Linked DNA regions of Homo sapiens. The protein of the gene in region 3 purifies or fractionates together with the protein of the main gene of each other region. This does not show direct contact. Each region holds a gene or a part of one and is shown on either strand. Other genes may lie near its edges. The genes, in order: GDF11, DCBLD2, SIAE, TENM3, CHSY3, MANEAL and MAN2B2.

Region 1 (3,500 bases), on a different chromosome or scaffold from region 3:
TTTGAGGCTTTCGGCTGGGACTGGATCATCGCACCTAAGCGCTACAAGGCCAACTACTGCTCCGGCCAGTGCGAGTACATGTTCATGCAAAAATATCCGCATACCCATTTGGTGCAGCAGGCCAATCCAAGAGGCTCTGCTGGGCCCTGTTGTACCCCCACCAAGATGTCCCCAATCAACATGCTCTACTTCAATGACAAGCAGCAGATTATCTACGGCAAGATCCCTGGCATGGTGGTGGATCGCTGTGGCTGCTCTTAAGGTGGGGGATAGAGGATGCCTCCCCCACAGACCCTACCCCAAGACCCCTAGCCCTGCCCCCATCCCCCCAAGCCCTAGAGCTCCCTCCACTCTTCCCGCGAACATCACACCGTTCCCCGACCAAGCCGTGTGCAATACAACAGAGGGAGGCAGGTGGGAATTGAGGGTGAGGGGTTTGGGGGAAAGGGGAAGCAGGGGCATAGTCAGGGTGGGGAGTGTTTGAAGTTTGCAGATGAGAAGGTTTGACAAAAAGACAGAGAGATGTAGAGACAGTGATAGAGACAGAGGAACAAAAAGAGCAGCAGTGAGAAGGCAAAGAGAGAGGCAGAAGAGACAGACGAGGCAGAGACAAAACACTGAGAAAGAGACTGAAATGGAGTAATAAATGAAAGCCCCACACCAAGCCTCCTTTCTTCCACTGGCAAGGTGAGGGGCTTGGTATAGTTTGGGGAGATCCCCTGACTATTCAGTAGGAGAAGAAATCAAAAATCCATTCTTTTCTCCTTCTCTCCCTCCAACAGTGGCCAGGGGAAGGGGAAGTGAGGGCAGGGGCAAAAAGATTTGGGAATTTTTATTTATTTATTTATTGTGACTTTTCATTTTTTTGGTATTTGGCTTTACTGGAATAGGAGGGCCCCTGCCCACTGTGCCCCGTTTATCCCTTATTCCCCAAACCCTGCTCTCCCCAACACCTACTCACTTAAGCACTTGTATAAAGCCTCCAGGGTTGGGAATGGGAGTAAAGGGCAAGAGGGCGGACACATGAAGTTTAGTTTCTAACCCATCATCACCCTAACTCAACCTTTTCTGAGCCAAATGGCTTGAATTGAAGCCAGTTGTCATGGAAATAGTAAGAGGTTAGGGTTTAAGAGCTGGGGATGCGGGGGTGGGAGAGAGAACCCTCAACATCCAGGATCTATATAATGAGAGCTACTTTAAACCCTCAGGTCCACCCTCATGATGCTGAGTTATTTAGCCAGAGGGTGCAGCCTGCTTATGCCCAAATTCCCTCAGCCAAGAGAGAGACCAAAGAGCCTCTGGAATGGCCCTGCTCCCAGCCTCTATCTTCAGGTCAATTAGAGAGAGTATAGAGACCCCAGAGTCCCCTGGGTCTGGAAAGCGTTAGGAGAGGTCAAGAAAGGAGCAGTAAGGAGGCTGAAGGTTACAGGGCATTTGAATCCAAATCACTGCTCTGGGCTAGGGAATAGAGCCAGCAGACCAAGGTGGGAAGGATTCTGGAAGGGGGACATTTTAGTCTCCTAACCCCAAAGCTCAGGGTGGAAGAGGGGAGAACAAGGAAGCAGAGTGTATAATTATTTTTTCCTTTTATTTTTGGAATCTAACAGTACCTGGCAGCAGGGAGGGGAAAGTACAGTGGGGAAAAGCATCTGACAAGGCCAGTTAGAACAGAGGATGGGAAGGATGGAGACTCCCGGGCTTGGAAGGCTAGGAAGCAGGCAGAGACTGGTTGCCATTTCAAGTCACTAGCTAGGCCCATTCATTCCTCCCACAACCCTGACCCATTCTCCTCTGGACTCACTGTGCCTCAGTTTCTTCCCCTCAATGGAATGAGAAATGACAGCACCCGCCACAGCCAAGAGATGAATTCTGAGCACTTACCACGGGCACTTTATGGACATAAAATACCTCTCGCTGTGGGACAGATAACCAGGGCACCAGAGTAGTGGTGAAGAGATGTGAGGCTTAAGAGGAGTCACAGGCTTCAGAGTACAAGTTCCCCTCTGCCTCCCAGCTGGACAGTGCCTAGAAGCCAAGGAGTTGAGAATCTCCTGATCCACACCCTATCCTTACTTCACCACCAGGCCTCTTGGCTCCAGGCAAGAGCTTAGAGGATGTCAGGAGAGGTGGGGGTAAGAATCTTCAGCAAAACTGTCACTCTAAGTAGAGCCAGCAGTTACGGGTCTGATAAAAACAGTACTGAACTAAAGTAAAGCCCAAGCTGGTGAGCAAAACTGGATGGCTCATTCTTCCCAAGAGCATGACTCTCCCCCTTGGCCAGTTGGTGGAAGGGGCAAAGGTATGTGACCACCCTTGAGAAGGTGATGTTGGTGAGCTTTAACATCTTATTCCTATTCTTATAGTGAGAAAGTGAAACAAGATCTTTCAGTAGAGGAATGGGCAGGGCTGTTAGGCTCTTCAGCTTGCCTTCACCCATATAGCAGCTATGCTAACCCCAAGCCTCTCTGGCCCTGTTCTTCATCCTTCCTTCTGCCCCAATCCTGAAGGACAAGACACACCCGGCCATCAACACCACTCACATTTCCTTGGTGGAAGGAAAGGAACAGAGAAGTGAAGAACAGATACCTCCCTCCAAGGTCAAATGCCTCGTGATCTTGGCAGAGTAGGGATTGGGCAATAAGCATCAGGTATCTTCCCTCTACAGATTCTAGAGAGCTGGGGCATTAAATATGGGGGACACTTAGAATACAGCTCCTTAAATACCACCAAATAAAGACCTTTGTGTGTGTGTGGTGGGTGGGGGGGGGGCAGGGGTCTTTCTCTTATGAACATAAATCTGTGAGCTGAAGTCTCATTCCCCTGTTCCTCCCTACCCCCAAAGAGGCACAGAGTGAAGGGACTTGGGGGGCACAGCTCAGCAACCCAGTGGGAGTTAGCACCCCCTCCCACCTTATGATGTGTGTGGACCTGGCCAGTGCCCCTCTGAACATATCATTATTAGTGTAATTATCATTTATTTTGTGTATTTGTCACATTGTGTGCATGACAGCCTTTGTTAAGGGTGTCTGAGGAGTATGGAGCTGACAGGGGCATTGGAATGCCAGGAAAGAACTTCTTCAACTGAGATCAAGGCTTCCTGGAGGGAACCACTGCAAAAAGGCCATCAGGCAGTTTTCAAGTTATGTGACAGAGGGCAAAGACGGCCATAGGGTGCTCTGAGTTTTGGGATGGTCACATGACACAATCCAGCACTTGAACCTGAAAAAAAAAATAAAAGCGGTCAAAGAGTTTAGAATTCAGTGCTGAGCTCTTCTCCCTAATCAAGTGCCACATTTACACCTTGGAGAACCGGAGGTGAAGAGGATCTGAGACAGGAAACCTCGTGTTCAATGACTAAGAAGATGGGGTCCTGGAGCAAGACAGAAAACACTAAGGGCATGGTGGTATAAGGTTTGGGACATGCAGGCCAAGGAAGGATGGAAAGAGGACAGGAAACTGGGGGTACCTAGAACAACCCCTCTCTGAAAAGCTTGAGCCAA
Region 2 (3,500 bases), on a different chromosome or scaffold from region 3:
ACAGATTAAAGATGATTATTGGTATTATTTACAGTACCAAAACAAAATAAATATTTTAACAAAATTAAACCAATCCCAACCAATTATTCCGACCATTTGCTAAGTTCCCCTAAATTAAATTTATACTCTCCACATGTGGAAAATTAATGATCTCATCATTTAAAATGGACTCCTTTAACATAAATTTCTCTTAATGACTGTAGGAGACCGTTATTTTAGATGTCTCAAGACCACTTTACTGAAACACTACCTTAAAAAAAGAGTCTCATTACAATGGAAACAAAAAGCTATTACGAATTAAATACTGTGATGGTTAATACTGAGTGTCAACTTGATTGAAGGATGAAAAGTATTGTTCCCAGGTGTGTCTGTGAGGGTGTTGCTAGAGGAGATTAACATTTGAGTCAGTGGACTAGGACACGCAGACCCACCCTCAATCTGGGTCGGCACCATTTAATCTGCATCAGCACGGCCAGAATAAAAACAGGCAGAAGAAAATGTGAAAAGACTAAACTGGCTTAAGTCTCCCAGCCTACATCTTTCTCCCATGCTGGATGCTTCCTGCCCTTGAACATCAGACTCCAAGTTCTTAGCTTTGGGACTTCTGGACCTTTGACCATAGACTAAAAGCTGCACTGTTGGCTTCCCTACTTTTGAGGTTTTGGGACTCGGAATGGCTTCCTTGCTCCTCAGCTTGCAGATGGCCTACTGTGGGACTTCACTTTGTGATCATGTGAGTCGATACACCTTAATAAACTCCCCTTTATATATACATCTGTCCTATCAGTTGTGTCCTTTTAGAGAACCCTGACCAACACAAATAACTCCTTTTCTCTGCCATGTTTCATAAAATGTGTCTCTAGTAATATTAACATCAGTGAAGAAAATATAAAACCATATAATTACAATTTTAATGCCTTAATTTTCTCTGAAAATCTTAGATGTTACTAGTTTTTCAAATAAAATAAGTGTTACAAATTGCTTTAGAAAATTTTTGTCTCTTAACCTGTTATTTTCTTTTCCTTATTCAAATCTATTTGTAACCACTGGTATTCATCAGTGGCAAAAGCAGCCCAAGGCGGTCCAGGTTTTTTCAGCCTGGCTTTTTTGGGTTTCCAACTGTTCTCTTGCCCTGTGTGGTCAGTCCACTCCAGCACAGATGATGCTGTTATTTGAGGATCCGCGATCACACCAGACTCCATCCCCAGTGTTCCATAACATCCTGAAACAAAGAAAAGACTAAATTTGGTTTCCAGGTATAATTTCAAAATGCATGTAGACCTGCTCACTGAAAACTTTCTATTCCATCTTTAATTAACATACACTACACTAATAATACACTGTAACAGAGAAATTTCAAAACTAGGCAAGTGTTTCTTGGGCATATGTCTTTGTGTATCATTAGGAAACCTACAAACATGCTCATTTATAAGCATGACTGTTAGTTTAATGGAGATACATTATCTTCTCCCTGGGACACTCTTCCCAAATAACTGAGTAACTCACTCCTTTACCTCCTTCAGGTTTTTGGCCTATGTTGCATTCTCCCTGAGGTCTTCCCTGGGAGGAAGGCCCTTCCCAACTTCAATCCAGTCCTCCTTATTTTCCTACATCTTTTATCATATTGTAAACAGTACATTATAAACAGAAATTTATTCATTGCTTATCATCAATCTCTCACTACTAGAATGTAAGCTCCAGGAAGGCAGGAGTTTGTTCACTTTACTCTATCACTCGAACCAGAGCAATGCCTGGCACATAAAGAGAAGGCACTCAGTAAGTATTTTCTGTTGAACGAATTGATTACTTCTTCAGACAAGTTCAAAAGTCATCTTTCTTAAGGAACCTTCCTTGCTTACATGACCATTTCTCTATAAATATAAAACTTTCAATTTGCTCTATTCATTATATTATTAGATAACTATCTTACCTCATAGTGTTATTAAGACAACTACGTGAGAAAGTACAATAAATCAGCAACTGACACAGTGCCTAACAGTGTTCAAAAAATATTATATAAATAAAAAATTATAAAGTCCATAAAAGGCTTACCACTTGTCTTAAATGTAAAAAGACTTGTAGATAAGTGTCCCCTGAAAGAGAGAAGGGTTTTTTTTGGTGATACTCACATAACACATGATGCCCCATATTTAGTGAAACATTTTCTTTTGATTTGGTTCCCCCCACCCAATAAAAGAACCAAGAAGACTGTGTGGCTAAAAATTAGACAACTAATATTGTTCCTAGGAAAAAAGTCTCATTTCTAAGCAGGACAACTTCTGAAATCAGCATAAACAGCTTTCTCTACAAGTATCTAGCACCCAGTTTCATATGTGATTGTGCAAAAGTTCTCTATGTAATCTTTAATATGTACTTCTTTTTCATATGTATTTACTCATTGTTTACTGTCAATCTCTCACTACTTTATTTCATGAAATAAATGGATTCTTAACACTTTTCTGTGGCAAATGCTTTCGATGAAAATACACTAAAAGGTCTAATTCTCAGAGAATGAGGCTCAAGTTTTTTCGGATAAACATGAGAAAAGTTGGGTACTAATAGATTTCTTTTTCTTTTTTTTTTTTTTTTTAGGAGAAATCAACATCTCATGGAAGAAGTTTCAGTGTACACTCCTGCCTTTAGTCCAACATACAAACCATTACAAGAGGATGCAATTTATCCCTGTTTTCTTTTTTAAAGTATGAAAGAGAGAATTCACAAACACTAAATCTTTCTAAAGGTATAACATGGTAAAGGAATGAAAGGGTCTGCATAAAATAATCTAGAAAAAAAAAAAAAAAAAGAAGGGAAGGTAGTTGAATCTATACCAGGGATGGGCAAATGACTGCCCATGCATGGCCTGTTTTGTATGGGCCGTGAGTTAAGAATAAAGAGCTATAAATAAAACAAAAAAAGAATAAGCTGCAGCGACATGTGGCCTGTAAAGCCTAAAATATTTATTAGCTGGATCTTTACAGAACAAATCTGCTGAATCCTGTTGTATACCAATCTGGATATGGATGATGCTTGTGTCTTCTGAATGAAAATTGGCCTAGGACCTCTGAAGAAAAGCTGGTTTCAATTAGGCTTAGTGTTGTCTGAAAGACTGAGCAGATCTAAGAGACAAGATTTATAAAAACAGATTGCTAACACTGCATTTCTATTTAATGTTTCAATTTCTCTTGCTTTTGATGCCTACCCTACGTTTTATAAAACAGTAGAACACTATAGTTACCATGAAAATACATCTTCAAAATATTCTCTTAGAATGAAAGGAAGATTCACAATAATGCTTATGATGTAACACTTTATGTCAAACTTAAATTTATATTTAAAGTATTTCAATTATCTTGAATCCCCATGTGCTATAAGGAACACAGTAGTTAAGCCTTTCAATCTGTAAAATAAATAAGGATTTGGCAACAAACTTCTAGACTCTTATGTAGACTTTTTTTTAACACTTAGAAAAGACAGAAGAAACACATTACTCTTCCAAATGA
Region 3 (3,500 bases):
TTAGGGACTGGGCTGTTATTCCAAGAGCAGGATAAATAGGCCACGGAGCTGTGTAGGCGACTCCATTAGCTGTGCTGCCCTGTTAAGTATAGCCGAAGGGGCCCTCATCATTTGTAGCTTCCAGGGAGGAAAATGTCAGCCTTGTTAATTCTGGTTCTCTTTTCTGCCTATCATTTTTGTTTAAAATGCTTAAAAAGATCTAAATTTTGTTAATTATTTTAGGTAGTTTGGGGTCTGTTTTATTCAGATAAATTGGGATATAATTTGTTTTATTTTTTTCCTTGTTAAGTTTTGATGAGGAACACGCTGAGATAATTTGGATGGATGTTTGTATTAATAAAATACTTTTATATAGGCTGGATGTTAAAAATAGGAATGATGTCGTTAAAGCGAGTTCTTATTCAGTCTTGTTAGTGACTCTCTAGAATAGAATCCAGTTTCTAGTGTGCTTTCTCTTGTCCTTTTAGTATAATTTAGCTTGTGGAATGGGTAAAATTGTGACAGAAGACCTTTGTTCAGACATGTTGACCTTCTATCTCTCACTGACCTTATTTATGTGTCTTGATTTATTTGAATTTACCTGAGAAGGAAGCTGACTTGTCATGAGTATTTATAAGGGCTTATTTAGAATTTTTGATGCAGTACACTGGGTTGTCAAAAAACCATGATAAGGGGCATTATTTGAAGGAAATTGGCATTAGTGGCATAGAAAAGGGGAGATAGAGAAGGGGAAAAAGATTAGGGAAGGCTGTTTGGAGAGAGGCATGCTGTTTTATTCCCAGTCATTAGGAGCAGGTGTGGTAATGGAAAGTAGGGAAAGGAAGTGGTTTATTTTTCTCATAAACACCATCTATAGGTGCATGAAAGGAGCATTTTAGTGATTTTGCGGGAGAGAGCCCAGCGTTAGGGCCAAGCCCAAGAGCAAAAAAAGATCAAGAGCTCTGAAGGAGAGGGAAGACTATGGTCCATTGGTTGCCTTGGGCTCTGGGAATTTTCCTTAGTGGTCATCATGTGCTATGATGCATACTGTTGGAAACTGTTCTTGTTATGTTGCTTGCCTAATTAGGAGGAAGAAGAGCCAGTTTTAGACGATTAAAGGGACTTAGTATGTTAAAATTCTCTTGCATAAAGACTGTATGTTCTTTGCTGTTTCACTTGATCCAGTTGGTGCTATATCTCTCCGATGATGCTTCCCTCAGTGTTTGTTAAATTTTTTAGGTATTGGTTTTCGCTTTGCTTCATACATCAATAATGATATGGTGCTGCAGAAGGAGCCTGCTGGGGCAGTGATATGGGGCTTCGGTACACCTGGAGCCACAGTGACCGTGACCCTGCGCCAAGGTCAGGAAACCATCATGAAGAAAGTGACCAGTGTGAAAGGTAAGGCAGCCCATCTTCCGTTCAGCTATTGCCCTCTTCTGCCACCTGCTGGATTATCTGAAAATGAATGCTAATGCTGTAGCTCACATTATCCATCCGTCCCTACATCCGTCTGTCCATTCATCCATAAAAGTTATTTGAATATTTGCCATGTGCTTAGGCACTGAGGATACAAACAAAAATAAGACTGAGTCAAAGTTCCTGTTCTCAAGGAACTTACAGAATAATGGGAATAGATACCAAGTTATATAGGACAGCGTGATGAATGCTATGATGAAGGTACATGTGGGGTGTCTTGGGGTACAGAGGAGAAACATTGAACTCAGACTGGGTGGTAAGGGAAGGTTTCCACAGAAGATGGTATTTGAGCTGAATCATATATAGAGGAGAGGCAGTATGGAGGAGAGGGTAAGAACTCTGGTAGTCCTTGCCCAACAACCTTCTTACCTTCTTACCTTAAAAAGTCTTAAAACCCAAGACTAGCACCATGTAAATCCCATTTCTTATTTTTAAACCAATATATTAGAACCAGCAGTTCTTTGGATTTCTAAGTCAGCATCATTTACTGAGAGTGCCATAATGTAAGAATGTAAGACTTCATATTGGTAGTCTAAGGCTCTGGAAGTCACTGCTTTCAGGCCCTGATTCTGTCATTTATACGGCTGAATAATCTTGGACATGTAATATAACATCTCCATGTCTCAGTTTATATGTGAAATGGAGATCGTCATGATACCTACAGGATTACTGTGAGAATTAAACGAATTAACACTGGTAAAGACTTGTAACAGTGCCTGGCACACAAGTGCAGAGTCAGTTTTAGCAGTCATGATTGTAACTATTACTATTATTATTTAGTCAGTCATTCAAATATCTATTGAGAGCCTACTATGTGCCCGATACTGTGCTAGGTACTGGTGATACAGTGATGAGTAAAACAGATATGTCCTCTTCCTTAATGAGGCATGCAGGTTAGACAGGAAGATAGTAAGCAGTTATCGTTAAGTGTGATAAGTGCCACAGTGAGGAAGAACAAGGTGCGATGGGAGTGCTTTGTAGAGAGTAGGGATAATTACGTAGTCTGAGGCTCATCTTGAGAGGTGAGCAGGGCACACTGGGTAGTGAGAATAGCCTGGCAAAAGCATGGAGGCCTGAGTGTACCTGGGCCATGGGAGAGATGCCAGGCAGGTTGGTTGGTCTGGAACACTGGGGGGTGTGTGACTGGGCAGATGACAGGAGATAGGTTGGAAAGACAGGGAGACTTGTTTGTCATTGCTAAGGAGTGTATGTTTTATTCTAAACGGACAGATTTTTAAACAGCAAAAGAATATGATAGATATTTTAGAAAGTTCGCTGTGGCAGCACTGTGGAAGATGGATTGGAGATCAGTAAGATAGAGGTGGTGGGCAGGCTGCTGTGATATCCAAGCAAGAGATGATGAGGGTTTGACCTCATAGAGTGGCTGTGGGGATGTTCAGGAAGGTGAGAATTAGCAGTTTTCATGAGCAGGGAGATATTACAAAGGAGTGAGTCTCTGTCTAGAAGAGATAAAGATATAGAAGCCGGTGTGGAGGAGGCAAAGCTAGAAGTTATGGGATGAAGGAAGGCATGCTCAGGGCTGGATGTTACAGATAGCGCTATAGCTGTGTGATGTGGAGGTGCGAATGAGACAGATGAGGAGGCTGCTCAGAGGTGGAGGTGGAGTTCAGGTACAAATTGGTGGTTTGAGCAATGGCTAGCATATATATGTGACAGGGATGCTTGTGGGAATTGTACTGGCCCCCGAAAGCAAGGATTGTCTGGTTGGTTTTATCAGTATACAAAACTGATGATCCAATCCCGAGTGATCCAGACCCTGATGCAGTCTCTTCAAAATTCATTTCCATTCAGCAAACATTTAAAAATACTATATGCCAGGCATTGATGTAAGGTAAGTGCTTCTAATTCTTGGGTTTTAAGACTTTTTAAGGTAAGAATGTTGTTGGGTAAACTAAAAGACCGAAAGGGAAGCTTCAGCTGATTGAGACATGCTTCTCTGTTGGATCTAAATGCCGTCAGTGACTTGCAGGATGTCCTGAAAGTGAAGGATTCAAGGGACTCTCAGTGCTTTCTGTTTGTGC
Region 4 (3,500 bases), on a different chromosome or scaffold from region 3:
AGTTCTGTAACATTATAACCTCCAGAATAGAATAAAAGCCTTATTCTGAGCTGAATGGCTTTTGGAGTCACATGGCAATATTTTAAAATACCACCTTAAAGGTTTCCGGGTTCTCTCCCCAAAAAGTTTGTCTCCACCTGTGCACAGTGAGCCTTTGAAGTCACAACTGATGGTAATCAGGACTTCTGGGCCCTTGGCCAGTTTTGCCAGCTTGCAGCATTCATCTTTGATTAAGAATCAACTGTTGATTTTAATACTCTCAATTTAGGGGTTTTATTAATAGAAAATGGGTTGTGGAAGTCCGCATATCCTTGGGCAATCGCTTTGGAGAGCTAATAACACACAACTTCTATTTGAGACCAGCCTTGACCAACTACAAAATAAATTTCGTTTCTTTTCTACAAGTATGTCTCTCTCCTGCTGCTGTGCATTGTTCTTACCTTTGCTAGCACTGTTACTAGCACAGGCTGCAACTTAGCAGGACTGATGGCTTACCCAGTCTGTCTGAGCATCTATTACTCGCATTTTTCGTAGCATTTGCCATAGTTCTGCTGTGAAGGTTACCGTCTTCATGTCTAAAAACAGTAGGTTTAGATTTGTAGGACGAAAGCAAACAGGTGCTCTTTTTCAGATTATTAATTGTGAAATTGGATTTTCTTTTTAAGGTAAGAATTTAAATTTATGAAAGGACAAAACAAACTCCAACACCTTTCATTCTGAACATTCTTCTCCTAGATGTTAACAGCTGGCTGGTGACATTTGGTTTCCATCTGCACAATGCTATTCCTGGATTCCCTGTTCCCAAATTTGATTTAACAGAACCTTCTTACGAACTTGTGAAGAGTCAGCAGTGGGATGATATACCGGTAAGAAACAAAAAGACCTACGGAAAGGTGATAAGTAGCTTGTGTCTTATCTACCCATATCTAATCAAACTACCCTTGTGAAAACTGTACCAAAGACAGTTTTTAACTTTTTGACTGTTTTAGGGAAAAAAAACAACACTTCCTCTGCATTTGTGTTCAACAAACCAGAGGCCTCTTAAACAGGCTTAAATATGTTTTCAGCAATGCTAATGAAAACATAGAAATGCAGAAGCTCACTTTCGAGTGCTGGGTTTCTAAAAAGAACCCCAAGAAAGCGTGGACCTGAAGGCAAAAATACAATAAACAAAAGGGCAGGGAACTCATATTACAAATTAGCAAACCACAAACAATGCCACAAGGTTCAACTTCTTTAAAAATTAACAGTGTTTTGGCCGAGTGAGGGGGCTCACGCCTGTAATCCCAGCACTTTGGGAGGCCGAGGAGGTCGGATCACCTGAGGTCGGGAGTTCGAGACCAGCCTGACCAACATGGAGAAACCCCATCTCTACTAAAAATACAAAATTAGCCCGGCATGGTGGGGCATGCCTGTTATCCCAGCTACTCAGGAGGCTGAGGCAGGAGAATCACTTGAACCTGGGAGGCGGAGGTTGCAGTGACCCGAGATCACGCCATTGTACTCCAGCCTGAGCAACAAGAGCGAAACTCCGTCTCAAAAAAAAAATAATTAATTAATTAATAGTGTTTCATAGGAAAAGATTAAAAATAAAAATAAATGTCCTCTGGTAAGGCTCCACCTACAACCAGGAAGGTTTATGGAATTTTCCTGAGAATAGCAGATCAAGAGGCCTGTAACCATTATAAGAAATAAAGAAATATAATAGAAAATTGCAAAGTCAAAGCTGCCGCTTCAGAAAGTGGTACTTCTAATCCCCACCAGAGACCAGAAAGGAATGCACAGCAAAACACCAGAATTTCCAGCTTACAGTAAGAATAATTAGAGATGGAGAAACTGGGTGACTCCATGATCATAAGGAGAAGACAGTGCAGACTTTCTTAGGACAATTAATTCCCAACCACCCCTTGAGCAATTTCCTATCATTTCAATGAAAACAAAGAGAAGAGGCAGCCATGGTTAACACACACACAGGCTATCTACAGTACCAGTACCTGTTTTTTGTTGTTTCATACCTAATATAAAAGCAATTCCTTTTTCATAAGTTACAAATATAGTCGTGTGTGTGCAACATTTTGGTCAATGACAGACCTTGTATAAGGTGGTGATCACATAAGATTACAATATCATATATATTTTTTTTTAATTGAAATGGGGTCTCACTGTGTCACCCAGGCTGGAGTGCAGCCTTGACCTCCTGGGCTCAAGCGATCCTCCCACCTCAGGCTCCCAAGTATCTGGGACTACAGGCACGTGCCACCACACCCAGCTAATTTTTTATTTTTTGTAGAGATAAGAGTCTCCCTGCGTAGCACAGGCTGGTCTTGAACTCCTGGTCTCAAGCGTTCCTCCTGCCTCCACCTACTGAAGGGCTAGGATTACAGGCATGAGCCACCGGGCTCTGCCAACACTGTGTTTTTACTGTACCTCTTCTATGTTTAGATACACAAGTACTTACCATGGTGTTACAGTTGCCTGCAATATTCAGTACAGTCACACCGTATACAGGTTTGCAGCCTAGAAGCCATAGGCCATCCCATACAGCCTACGTGTGCAGTAGGCTACACCATCTAGGTTTGTGTAAGTGCCCGCTATGATGTTCACACAAGGACGAAATGGCCTAATGCCACATTTCTCAGAATGCCTCCCTGCGGTTAAGCAGTGCATGACTGTCTACACTGATACAGTGGCATGAAGACATACCGAAGTTTCCTAATGCATTTGAACATGCACTTCCTAATTGTGTATGACTTTCCAACATGCCTGAAAACACCTACATCTAACTGTACAAATGGACTTGCCAGCTCTTTTCCTAAGCAGCCTTTTAAATATGGTTCAAGTTCTCTGTCAAAAGAAGTGCACCATAAGGACAGCATAGGAAATCGTGGGCAAAGACACTGAGGCTGCCCCAAGTACAGAAAAACAACTGTTTCTTTCATTGCCGCAAATGAAACAGATGTTTTCATTTGGGAAACAATGGCCAGACAAACATCTGGTGGTATAAGAAATGGCTGAGTTAAGATGCCCCCAATTTAAAACATTTGCCAGTCTAGACGGTCCACTGTCCCTAAGTCTGAGAAAAATAATTGTTTTCCTAAAGTAACAAATATCGTCTCCAGCTGCCCCACCTTCCACTCATCCCTGTACATTTCAGTTCTGCGGTTACACTCACCATCTTCAGCTGAAAACTCTGCCAGGAGAGGGGACAGAGTTGACTTAAATACAAGCATTTCAAAGCATACGAAGCGGGGCCCTGTGATCGGCACTAAGTATCCCCAGCCGTTCAGATCCCTCTCTGTGTTTGGTGGCTTCTCAGCCTCCTGTGGAGAAAGCTACGAGCATGCAGATCCGGATGAGCTGGGTTCCCCACGTGGGGTGGGAGTGGGAAAAGAGCATCTAGAAACTGTAAGAGAAAAGCAAGAAACAGGACTATTTTTCCCATGTTAGAAACGAAGAAAGCTTTAAAGTGATCCACGATGAGTGAGCCATTTGGGGGTTCC
Region 5 (3,500 bases), on a different chromosome or scaffold from region 3:
TTTATTTTTAAACGTTTTTTCTGAACTTAACAAACTGCAAGTGAAACCAATTACACTAATTTTTGACAAACTTTTTTCTAAAAAGGTGCCTTCCCAAATTAAATTTCAAGACAGGTTTGATTCAAACATCCTCCAAAACTGTGCGGGTTGTATATGACTGAAGTTTAGTTAATGGCAAAACACTGAACTAAACCAATTATGAGTAAAAAATAATTATTAGGTATTAAGAGTCAGCCAAAACAATGCTAAATACCAGTATTTAATATTATTTTATATTCCTGGGAACTTCTTGTTACTTCAAATGTACTAAGAAACCTGTCTTTACTTTCCTTGTCATTATTTCACTTTTTACAGAAAATTGATGATTGTCAGAGCTGTTAAGGTTTTTCAGTGACCTTAACCAGAAGCTGGTACAATTTTAATATGTTTAAATTAATAACTATGAATTAGTCTTTTAAAAATAATAGAGTATTGGAAGAGGCTTTTTCTTCTTTTCAGTTGTGTAAGACTGAGGATTTTAAGCACAATGTTGAAAGTTCTGTCCCTTACCTTGTACATGATAAGTGATTATGAAATAAGGAGACATAGTAATTGTTGCCTTTCTTTTTGTAGGTGATAAATTAGAAGAGTTTCTTAGATCGCTAAACAGCAGTAAGCCTCTCTACCTGGGACAGACTGGCCTGGGGAATATTGAAGAGCTTGGAAAGCTGGGACTGGAGCCTGGGGAAAACTTCTGTATGGGAGGACCTGGCATGATCTTTAGCCGAGAAGTTCTCAGGAGGATGGTGCCACATATTGGTGAATGCCTTAGAGAAATGTACACGACTCATGAGGATGTGGAAGTAGGAAGATGCGTTCGCCGTTTTGGTGGGACTCAGTGTGTCTGGTCTTACGAGGTAAGCATGGAGCTGTGATGAAAATGTTCACATAGTACATATACATGCCATTTTATAATCTAGGGCAGCGATTCTATTCATTCTCTCTGTATCTTTGTATTTACTTGAAAGTGATAGTAGCAGCCCTTAAGGGATACAAGAGTGGGAGATAACTTTCTCATTAGGTGTCAGGCCTGTCTGAGACTTTGTTATTAGCATGCCCCTTAACTTTAAGCAGTGGCCTATACTTATGGCCACATCTCTGGAAGATGCTTATATCCTCCCCTGCTTGATTTATTGGTGCTTATATACATGTGAATCTATTTCCCTTTTCTAACAAGAGGTTTAATTTTACTCTTCTCTTTAGCTGTAGCCTTTAGCATTTGGTACTGTGCCTTTTTATTTTATTTTATTTTATTTTGGTTAGGTGTGTAATGGCATCTCTTTGTTTTTAAATGGTTAAAATCTGAAGTTTCTTTGGATATTTTCCAGTGGAAATTTAACATATTTTTAAAAGTATCAGAAAAGTAAACTAATAGTGTATCATTTATGGTAGATGTATTCACAAAATTCCAATCACTGTATTTCCTTAGGCATACAAAAGGAATGAGTTGTCTGGAAAAAAGCAGAAGTTTAAATGGTGTGCAGTAGCTGCTTAGTATTTTTGACAGGTTCCCTAAAATTTGTTTATGTCTATTCTTATGCTATTTTCTGAAAAGGAACCATTATTTAAATAATCTTAGCTATTTATTTATTGCCGTGATCATTTTTATGAAATACTTAGAGATTTTTTCTTCAGAAATTGATTTTGAAATGTAATAACATTTTATTTAAAATAGATTTCCTAAAAGATAATTTTAGTAAAAATTTATTTAACATTAAAATAATGTATTGTTTTTAGTATAGTTTGGTTTTCAAGTAGTTGGAATTTAGTATTATTTTAGCTACGGAGTGCACAGCTTTGTAAATTATATCTTAACTCCTTTGCTTATGTTTTCAAACTTTTCATGTCACTTAGTATAGAAGAAACATTTTATGAAAATATGTTCCCTGTGAAGTCACCAAACACACAGTTTCATTTGTTTTTTTTGTATTGTAAGTGTAGTCTCACTATAGTTAATTTTGCTTTCTCTTTCATACTTTGTGGTATTTATACTTTGGGGACATATTTTATACATTACAGAAAGTAAAATTTATTAGTCATTTGAAATAGGCATGAAAATTTGAAATGATTATGTTGCTGATTTCTTTTGATAATAAAATGGTAATTTGTAAAAACTATCCTACAACTACCCTTTAGGATAAAAATTTATGTAAAAACATTACAGTTTAGAGACAGGTAATCTAGAATAAACTCAATAAAATATTTCTTCCTTTGTTATAAAACAAAGTAAAAGACAAAAATATTCAATACAGAGAACATATTCAGTTGATTTTGTTTACATGCTGTTATTGTTTTGCAGGTATTTACTTTGCATGGATAAGTAAAAAAATATTTGTGTGGATAAGTAAAAAAATCTCACCTGTAGTTAACAATATAGATGGGAAATTATTGTGTTTTATAGGATACTTTATTACCTTAACATAATATATAAAATTTTAACCAAGATAGTGTTTAGGTGTTCTTCTTTTCAAGTTCTCATTGATTCTGCTGTGAAGGCCTAGTCTTCACCTAGCATTCCATTCATTCATGTTCAAGACAGTAAGATATGCACAAAAATTGGGAGCTCAAAAATTGATTTAATATTTTATTTATAATATAGGCCTTTGTTCTGGTTAAAGTGAAGAGAAGTTATATTATAGATGTGCACCCTGTCTATTAGAATAAGTGCAATCTTAGATCCTTTTATTAACTGATGTAAGAGCAAACAAAAGAGATTCCAAGTCTTACAGGCTGTAACCTGGTGAATATAACATTTTCCATAACTTTTCGTAATACATTTGAATTTAGACTGACACTTGACCATCACTGACTTATGAATCCGTATAAAACTAAACTAATTGTCTCAACATGTTTTCCTAGCATTATAAAATATTTTCTAGATAAGTACTGTTGACTTTATGTTTTGCTAAGTTATTATATAGAATTTACTTTGTATTGGGATTTCAGTCATTAAAGGAGCTATTTAAACAGTATTTATTTAAGGGAGGCATTGATTTAATTCTAATAAAAAATCTCAAAAGTCTTATATAGAGAAATGATGGTAAATTTTATTACCAAGAGATATGTGAAAAAGCATTGTTAGCAAAACTAGTAAAGATACATATACAAAGAGATTATATCTAAATTTTAATACTAGATTGTGTTCTATGTTTCATGAGACACCTAAGTACGTAACTTGGGGCACAGCTAAACTGGTTATAACATTCACAGATCCCATACTTCACTTTCTAATTTGGATTTTATGTTAGTGGAAATGGTGTCCATATATGATACTGTTCATATTATATAGAAAGATTGGTCTATTCTACTCCAGGTTGGCATTCTCAGTAAAGGTGAGATTTTACATCTGCTCATTAAAAAAGCTATGAAATTGATCATTACTTTTTTTCCCATAGTTCTTTTAAAAGCACTATCTGTGATAGAATTTTGGTAAATTTTTAAATTTCTTTTATCTATGCCTT
Region 6 (4,155 bases), on a different chromosome or scaffold from region 3:
CATTGTTGGATCAGAGAAAATACCCACTCTGCCCTGCCACTGGGCTCCTTGCTTTGCAAGTTGATACACTGGCATATTCCTTAAGTCAGGCTGAATCGGGTATGGGCGACCTGGAGCTGAAGGCATTCCACTTCATTCACATTTACCACCATAAGGTCTCTCAAGCTCACTTTCCTCGGCTGCAGGTCTACCAACACTTCCCAAGCTCCCTGCTCCTCTTCCTGGGTTCCCTACAATTCATTTTACTTAACCAATAAGAACTGGGTGCCCGCCATCATCCCAAGCTCTGTTTTAGACATGCAGACAGGGAATGAAACAAAGTTGCTGTCATTGCGGACCACTGAAGGAGGCATATGATAAACAAAACTATCTTCTGAATAAATGAAGTAATGAATAATGCAGTGTAGGAACTCTATCAATAGCGAGTGAAAAGCTTATTATCTACAGACTATCACACCAGGGGCTGGTACTCACTTAAACGGCACTAGGAAGTGAGTGTCAGATGCTGTTCCGGCAGCCCTTGGCGTCTAACAAGGTAAATAAGACGGGGCCTGTCCTCTGGAGCCCAGAATCCAGGAAGAAAGGCGCACATGTATTGAGCGCTTGCTTTTCAGGCCCCGTGGAAGTGCTTTACGGGAACCATCTCATTTAATCCTCCCTGACTCTAGGAGGTTCTCCCAGGAGAGACCGCTCCAGACGACATCAGGCCTACAAGCCAAGAAATGCAGCAGGCCTCTAGAAACTGAGAAAGACCCCCAGATGACAGCCAGCAAGCAAATGGGGGCCTTAGCCCTGCAATTGTATGGAACTGAATTCTGCCATTGAGCTGGACGTAGATCCGTTCCTAGAGCCTCCAGAAAGGAGTGTAACCTGCCAACGCCTTAATTTTGGCTTCGTGAGATTCCAACCAGAGAACTCACTAAGCCACACTGCGACCCGGCAGGCTGGGCAGTGCAGCGAGCTCTGGAGAGTGCGCCCTGACCCGGGGTCCAGGCCCGGTCAGTGTGACCTTGCGCGAGTCACGGTCGTCCTCCGCCCGCCAGGCCCCGGACGGCGTCTGCAGGGTCCGATTCCTGGGGATTTCCCGACGCCCCTTCCCCCGAGGTTCAGGGGCTGCCTGGGGTGCCGGGGAGGGGGGCCGAGGGATGGGGGACCTGGGGCTAGAAGGGTGGCACTGAGACCCGTAGGGAGGGGGCCAGTGAAGTGAGTAAAGGTGGATCGACGAAGAAGGAAATCCTTGGGGAGAGAACCACCGACGCGCGCTTCTTTCCCCCCCCCGCCCCGCCTCCGCCCCCGCCCCCGCCGCGCCGCCTCTCTCCCGCGCTCCGGAAGGCCTGCGTCCCCGCTCCCCAGCCAGGCGCCACCACCTGCCGCCCAGGCAGCCAGGCGACTCTTCTTTCGCGGGTCACGCGGCCTGACTCAGGCCCCTGCTCCTGTGGCCCCGAAACTCGCCGTTCGCTGGGCCTTGCGTTGCACTCGGCGTGCAGTTCCCCCTCGGCTCGCGGCCACTTGGTCCGCGCCGCCTGCGTCCTGTGTGCCGAGCCCGCCCGCACTGCGGGGACAGGCCGGGCGCCGCCCACGCCGCGCTCTGCCGGGCGCACAGTCTGCCTGGGAAGCGCGCGGCCGGGCGGGCGGCCATGGCGCGGCACGCTGGGAGGTAGCGCGGCGGCTGCAGGAGCGCACAGTCGGCCATGGCCCGGCGGCGGCGCCGCGCCTGCATCGCTCTGTTCCTGGTGCTGCTCTTCGCCTTCGGCACCCTCATGGGTCTGCGCACGCTCAAGGCTCCGGACGGACTCCCGGCGCTGGGCCCGGGCCTGGAGCTGGCGCCCTTTGAGCGACGCCCAGAGGGGGCCCCCGCGCCCGCTGCCAGGGCCCCGGCAGCCCCTGCCGCGCCGCCCCCGCCGCCGCCGCCGCCCCGCACCGCGGACCCTGGCGGCTCCCCTGGGCCGGCACCCGCGGAGGCCGAGCCCGCCCCCGTGCAGAGCCTGCGCGTCTACTCGGACCTGCACGCCTTCTACTACTCGTGGTACGGGAGCCCGCGGCGCGAGGGCCACTACATTCACTGGGACCACGTCATGGTGCCGCACTGGGACCCCAAGATCTCGGCCAGCTACCCCCGCGGCCGCCACAGCCCCCCAGACGACTTGGGCTCCAGCTTCTACCCGGAGCTGGGGCCCTACAGCTCCCGGGACCCCGAAGTGCTGCGGGAGCATATGACCCAGCTCAAGGAAGCCGCCATCGGTGAGCGCCCCCCACCCCGGGCGGCCCTGCCCCCCAGCCTCACCCTTCCTCCTTCCCACACCCCAGCTCCCTCTGGTCCTGTCACCGGCCCTTTGGTCCCACTTATCCGCCAGCCTGGCTTCTTAGCTGTTCCCTCCCACTCTCATCCTGGGCCCACCATGCGACACCGCCCCTCCGTCTAGTATTCAGACCCCCCAGCTGGGCCCTTCCATCCCTAACATCCAGGGCCCTTCCCATAGGGCGGAACTGCTAGGAGTTTGCACCAGGAGAGGGAGGCAGAGTCTTCAAATTTGTTGGGCGATGGGAAGTGAGGCCTGGAGTCCTGGCCCGCAGGTTCTGGGGTTCAGAGGAGTGGAACTTAGGGCGGCCTCTGCTTTCATGGCAGGTACAGGGTAGAGCAGCAGCCGTTCCTGCTTTTGCTGGCTGCAGAGAGGAAAGTGTGCCCGTGTTCCATGAAGGCCTCTGCTCTATTTGCAGTTGGAGGTAGTGTTGGGGGTTTAGAGGCTTTTCATCAAGCACCCAGCTGGAGGGAAGGTCCCAGGGCGCCTCCTTCGTAGGCTATGGAGGGGAGGCTCACTTATTTCGGATTTCGTCACTGAATTTTGCTGGATTTTACAGATGGCCTCTGCTCAGGGCTCTTCTCCATGCGGGACGTTAGGGTTAGGGGTGCTTCTCTTCTTCAGAGGTAGGCCTGTGGCTTCCAGGTGGGTGTGGCACTGTCCTCCCATTCCCTTTGTTCTACTACTTGCTGAGGCAGTCTAAAGCCTGGCTCCCTTCCGGCCTGGCGCGCTACGGTTCCCGCAGGCGCTCCGCTTCAGCACCGCGGGCGTGGACAGCTCCGGGGCGCGAGGCTCTGGGACTCATCTGCAGGAAGTGAACCTGGCAGGAGGCTTGCTTCAGGTTTTTAGGAACCATTTTTGCAATTGGAGATGTTTGTGAGGAAAAAAATCTCTGTTGAGGGGGGTACTGTGTGTCTCTGAAGTGGCCTCTGTGTTGCGTCTCAGGCGTCCTGGTCCTGTCCTGGTACCCACCTGGCATGGCTGATGATAACGGGGAGCCCTCAGATGACCTGGTGCCCGCCATTCTGGACACCGCCCATCAGTACAGCATCCAGGTGAGTCTCCAAGAAGAGGCCACGTGCTCTCTGCCCTATTCTGGAGAGTTGCTCTCCTCCGCCCACAGGGTTAGTGCCTCTACAGAAGTTCTTGGCAGTAGCCCAAAGGGATAACAAATATGTGGCAAGTGTGGTTTTGGGGGAGGGTTCAGATAAATGGTGCCTATGTTGCTCTTAGTTTTTTGAATTCTAAGAAAACTGAGAAAACTAAATATAGGACCAAGAGAAGACTAAATAATTATCACTTTTGTTAAATAATAATAGAGGTTAGGTTGTAAACCCTGGTGGAAAAAGGGTAGGCAAGAGCCAAAGGGACCTGCAGACTCAACTCTCTAGTGGGAGGCAGTGCTGGACCTCGAGGAGTAGGCAGGTGTTCTCAGCAGGTGGGCTCACTTTCAAGAGGAAGGACGGACTGGACGAAGCATTTCCCCACATGTGCCAATCAAGTAAGTCATCCCTTGCTTCTGTGGTGAAGGAAGAAAAATGATAGAGAAAGAAGAAAAGCCCCACTCCCCTATTCCTGAAGAGAATTCCACCACTGACATGTCTAACAGATCACAGCAGTTTTCCACTGACACAGCTTCAGCATACTTATTCCACTGTTTCAGGCAGCTAGCACCAACCACTTGGAGCTGGCACAAGGTTGAAACCTATTAGCCACCCTGTAACAGCCCACCAAAATGATTCCCACATGCCCTGCTGCGGGAGATGGGCAAACTGCTCACCCCTGTTTTGGCCTTCAAGGGCAGCAGCTGCCTTTATCTCTACTGTGCCCACCACTGCCAGGCCCTCTTCTGAAC
Region 7 (3,500 bases), on a different chromosome or scaffold from region 3:
GGCTGGTGCAGCCTCTAGACCTCTGACCTTCTTCTTCGGGTATCTAGGGTGCCAAAGCATCTCCTCAACCAAGACCCACTCCTGGCTGCCCGCCAGGGCCTGGGGCACTGGGCCTGCCCGTAAGCTCACCTTTCCAGCCTTTACCTCCCCAACTCCTGCTCCCGGCAGTCACGCCAACACCACCTTAATTTTAGATGTGACATTTCTAGTGAGGGGAAAAGCATTTGTTCCCAGCACTGCAGTGTCAGGGAAAGGCTGGGTGTGGGCAGCGGCCCCCGGGGGTAAGAGCTTTCATGCCCCTCCCTGAGGGGACACTTTCCCAGCTGGGATGTTTAGCGGAGGCCCAGCAGAGTGGCAGGTGCCAGAGGGAAAGAACCCCTCACCCCTATCCTGAGGGGAGAGAGCCCAGCTCCCGCCTCAGAGGTGCTGAGAGGCAAAGGGTCCAGGTGAGAGTCAAGGAGACACCTTGGGCCATCCTGGATGACCACTGCTGTCCTGGCCATTCAAACCCAAGCTCTCAGCCCTGTCCCCCAACCCCACTCCCTTCCCACTGAATCCGCGATCCCTCTCCTGTGTCACAGACTCTCTTCCACCTTCTCTTGTCTCTCTGACTCCTTCCAGCAGTATTTAGTTGTTGTTGTTGCCGTTGCTGCTGTTGTTGTTGTTGTTAGACAGAGCCTCACTCTGTCACTCAGGCTGGAGTGCAGTGGCGCAATCTCGGCTCACTGCAATCTCTACCTCGCAGGTTCAAGCAATTCTTATGCCTCAGCATCCTGAGTAGCTGGGAGTACAGGCGTGCACCACCATGCCCAGCTAATTTTCATATTTTTAGTAAAGACAGGGATCTCACCATGTTGGCCAGGCTGGTCTTGAACTCCTGACCTCAAGTGATCCGCCCACCTTGGCCTCCCAAAATGCTGGGATTACAGACCTGAGCCACCAAGCCCGGCCCCCAGCAGTATTGAAAACACACTTAAATTGTCTCTCTTCAAAAAAAAATTTTTTTTAACATGGGGTCCACTGTGTTGCCCAGGCTGGTCTTGAACTCCTGACCTCAACATCATAAAGCAAGACCCTCCAGCTCAGGCTGTAATGGCATTTATTCCCACCACCCCCTCACCCCCCACCACCTCCCACTACTTCACCCTCAGCCCCTGCATCCTGGCCTCTGCCCTGCATGTGCTAGTGAGCTTGCTTGTGGCCTGGTCATTATACTGGTGAGGATACTGGTTCAGCAGCTTGAACAGAGACCAAGTGACTCCAACAAGAAGGAAGGTGTGTTTCTCTCCTGTGGAAGTCTGCAGTGCAGGCCACTCTGGTGATTGGGTGGCTCTGCTCCATGGAGTGACCCAGGGATCCACGTTGCTTCCATCTTGATGTTCAGCCATCCCCCACAGTGTTGCCTGCCTGAGTTGCAGTCTAGACTGGCTCACCCCACTGAGTTGTCCTTCCAGCAGCTAGGGGATAGGGAATGGTGGAGCCAGGGCAGGCAGCTTCCTTGTAAAAGGCGACCTAGAACCTGCCCACATCACTCCTCACATTTCCATTGGCCAGAACTTAATCATATGGCCTCCCTCAACTGCAGGGACTGCTGGGGAATAGAGTCTATTTTGCTCCCAGTCCATTGGCCAGAGTGGTGTCATGTGACCTCTACCAGTTGCAAAGGAGGCTGGGGAATGTAGTCTCTGGCTGGGAGTCCATTTGCCCTGCTAAAACCAAGAAGGAGTGTGTGGTTCTGTTACTAAAAGGAAGAAGGACAGAATGTATATCGGACGCCAATTAACAGTTTTGGTCATGAATCACCCTGAAGTCTCAGGAATGCTTTCTGCTGGACGGCCAGAAAACCTAAGTAAAGCTGTTAGTGGTGGAAGGTATCCAAGTTACCAGCAGCTAATCCGTACGGGTCTGCAGCAACCCCAGTTCTTGCCTCCTCGGAAGAAAGAATTCGACTGAGGGGCATAAGGCAGAAAAAGAGACTGAGGCATGTTTCAGAGCAGAAGTGGAAGTTTATTTAAAAAGGCTTTAAAATGAGAAAGAAAGGAAAATATGCTTGAAAGAGTCCCAAGTGGGCACGTGAAGGTCAAGTGCTGTATTGATCCTTGATCCTAGGACTTTATAGGCTGGTCCCCTTTCCCATGATTCTTCCCTTAGGCTGGGCTACCCGCACTCACAGTGCCCTCCTTACCCTTGGGAGGTGAGCACACGCACTGTGTTTAGGAAGTTGCACACATGCCCATCTGACGCTTTCTTCCCTTTTCCAGTGGAGTGTCCCTGGAAGGTCAAACTCCGCCATTTTGTCTCTTAATGCACCTGCTCGGGAAGTCACGTCTCCCTGGCACCTGCATTCAATTAACATGTTAGTGCAACAGGTGTGGACCATCAGGAAATGCCCTCTCCCTAGTGCTGGCTGCCAATTTCTCACTTCTAGAGAGGCAATGTGATAATTGCCAAACCATCACCCAACATTCCTAGTGGGTGGGGGAAGAGCCCTCCCCTGCCCCACTCATGCTTGTCTAACTACCTGTAACAAAGCGACTTGAGTCTTAAGAACATTTACTTAACAAGATGGGGATAGTTTGGGACTGGTTCTGCAGTACCTTGATATCTGTGATTCTCATGTCCTTACCCTTGTGGTCACGATATGGCTGCCATAGCTCCAGCCATCATGTTACCAGACACCACATTCAAGGCAGTAAAAGGAAGAGAGGGGGCTTTCTATACCCATAGTCTATTCTGTTGGATAAACTTAGACACACTAAAATGTTAGCATTTATTTGAACAAACAGTGATTCCTGAATCAGGAAGTACTAGACTGTGAGCAGTTCATGGCTCCACTAAGGGAATATGAGAGGGAAACGTCTATAAGGTGCTCCTGAAAGCAAGACAAAGAAAACATTTGCCTACAGTGAACAGTCCCTAGTTAGAGGTTGGTTGGCAGTTTCCGATGGGTCAAGCTTAAGTTCTCTTTTCCTGTTTCCACCAAGTTAGATTTGGGTTTGCTGACAGAGGAACTCGAGGCCTGGAGCCGGCTCAGCCTGATGGCCTCCCAGTTCATTACTTAACAATGCCCCTCCAGCTGCCAGACAGAGAGAACCAATATCTGACAGGAGGGAGTAAGCGTGCCACATTTGGCTTAGATCAACTGTGATTCGTCCCTTGAGGCTGGGCATGGTGCACCCTGAACAGAGGGAAGGTTCTGCGAGTGAAAAAGGGGTGCTGACTTGGCAGCCTTCAGCCTGCCCCCACCGGCTGCCCTGTCTGGTGCGAGGCCGTACCCTCCAGAGCTCCTGGCTCCTCTCAGTGCGGTGCTGTTGCCCACTCCCTCCTTCATCCTGCAGCTGGCACTCCCCCTGTGCTCCCCCCACCCTCTGGCTGCTCCTTCTCCATCCTCTCTGCTTACATATGCACAGCCTCCACCCACACTCCTAGTCCACGCTCCCCCTGATCCCCTCTCACCTCTGCTGTGCACCTGATGCCAGCCCCACTCCTCACCTCCCACA

The links.
Region 1: the proteins of SIAE (region 3) and GDF11 purify together in Homo sapiens (affinity purification with mass spectrometry; 2 studies listed by BioGRID and IntAct, with this or other methods). This does not show direct contact.
Region 2: the proteins of SIAE (region 3) and DCBLD2 purify together in Homo sapiens (affinity purification with mass spectrometry; 2 studies listed by BioGRID and IntAct, with this or other methods). This does not show direct contact.
Region 4: the proteins of SIAE (region 3) and TENM3 purify together in Homo sapiens (affinity purification with mass spectrometry; 2 studies listed by BioGRID and IntAct, with this or other methods). This does not show direct contact.
Region 5: the proteins of SIAE (region 3) and CHSY3 purify together in Homo sapiens (affinity purification with mass spectrometry; 2 studies listed by BioGRID and IntAct, with this or other methods). This does not show direct contact.
Region 6: the proteins of SIAE (region 3) and MANEAL purify together in Homo sapiens (affinity purification with mass spectrometry; 2 studies listed by BioGRID and IntAct, with this or other methods). This does not show direct contact.
Region 7: the proteins of SIAE (region 3) and MAN2B2 purify together in Homo sapiens (affinity purification with mass spectrometry; 2 studies listed by BioGRID and IntAct, with this or other methods). This does not show direct contact.

Annotation. Positions count from the first base shown.
Region 1 is NC_000012.12:55,749,622-55,753,121, forward strand, and holds part of GDF11 (growth/differentiation factor 11 preproprotein), read left to right. Parts: coding exon 1-261; 3' UTR 262-3,500. UniProt on the Homo sapiens protein: Secreted signal that acts globally to regulate anterior/posterior axial patterning during development. May play critical roles in patterning both mesodermal and neural tissues. It is required for proper vertebral patterning and orofacial development.
Region 2 is NC_000003.12:98,818,196-98,821,695, forward strand, and holds part of DCBLD2 (discoidin, CUB and LCCL domain-containing protein 2 precursor), read right to left. Parts: intron 2,094-3,500; coding exon 2,053-2,093; intron 1,223-2,052; coding exon 1,007-1,222; intron 1-1,006.
Region 3 is NC_000011.10:124,667,240-124,670,739, reverse strand, and holds part of SIAE (sialate O-acetylesterase isoform 1 precursor), read left to right. Parts: intron 1-1,218; coding exon 1,219-1,380; intron 1,381-3,500. UniProt on the Homo sapiens protein: Catalyzes the removal of O-acetyl ester groups from position 9 of the free diacetylated sialate N-acetyl-9-O-acetylneuraminate (Neu5,9Ac2) in the cytosol and of the diacetylated sialate residues of sialylglycoconjugates in the lysosomes.
Region 4 is NC_000004.12:182,795,902-182,799,401, forward strand, and holds part of TENM3 (teneurin-3), read left to right. Parts: intron 1-735; coding exon 736-866; intron 867-3,500.
Region 5 is NC_000005.10:129,907,465-129,910,964, forward strand, and holds part of CHSY3 (chondroitin sulfate synthase 3), read left to right. Parts: intron 1-612; coding exon 613-896; intron 897-3,500. UniProt on the Homo sapiens protein: Has both beta-1,3-glucuronic acid and beta-1,4-N-acetylgalactosamine transferase activity. Transfers glucuronic acid (GlcUA) from UDP-GlcUA and N-acetylgalactosamine (GalNAc) from UDP-GalNAc to the non-reducing end of the elongating chondroitin polymer.
Region 6 is NC_000001.11:37,792,492-37,796,646, forward strand, and holds the start of MANEAL (glycoprotein endo-alpha-1,2-mannosidase-like protein), read left to right. Parts: upstream 1-1,355; 5' UTR 1,356-1,691; coding exon 1,692-2,241; intron 2,242-2,996; exon of another isoform or gene 2,997-3,245; coding exon 3,246-3,355; intron 3,356-4,155.
Region 7 is NC_000004.12:6,581,689-6,585,188, forward strand, and holds part of MAN2B2 (epididymis-specific alpha-mannosidase isoform 1 precursor), read left to right. Parts: intron 1-3,500.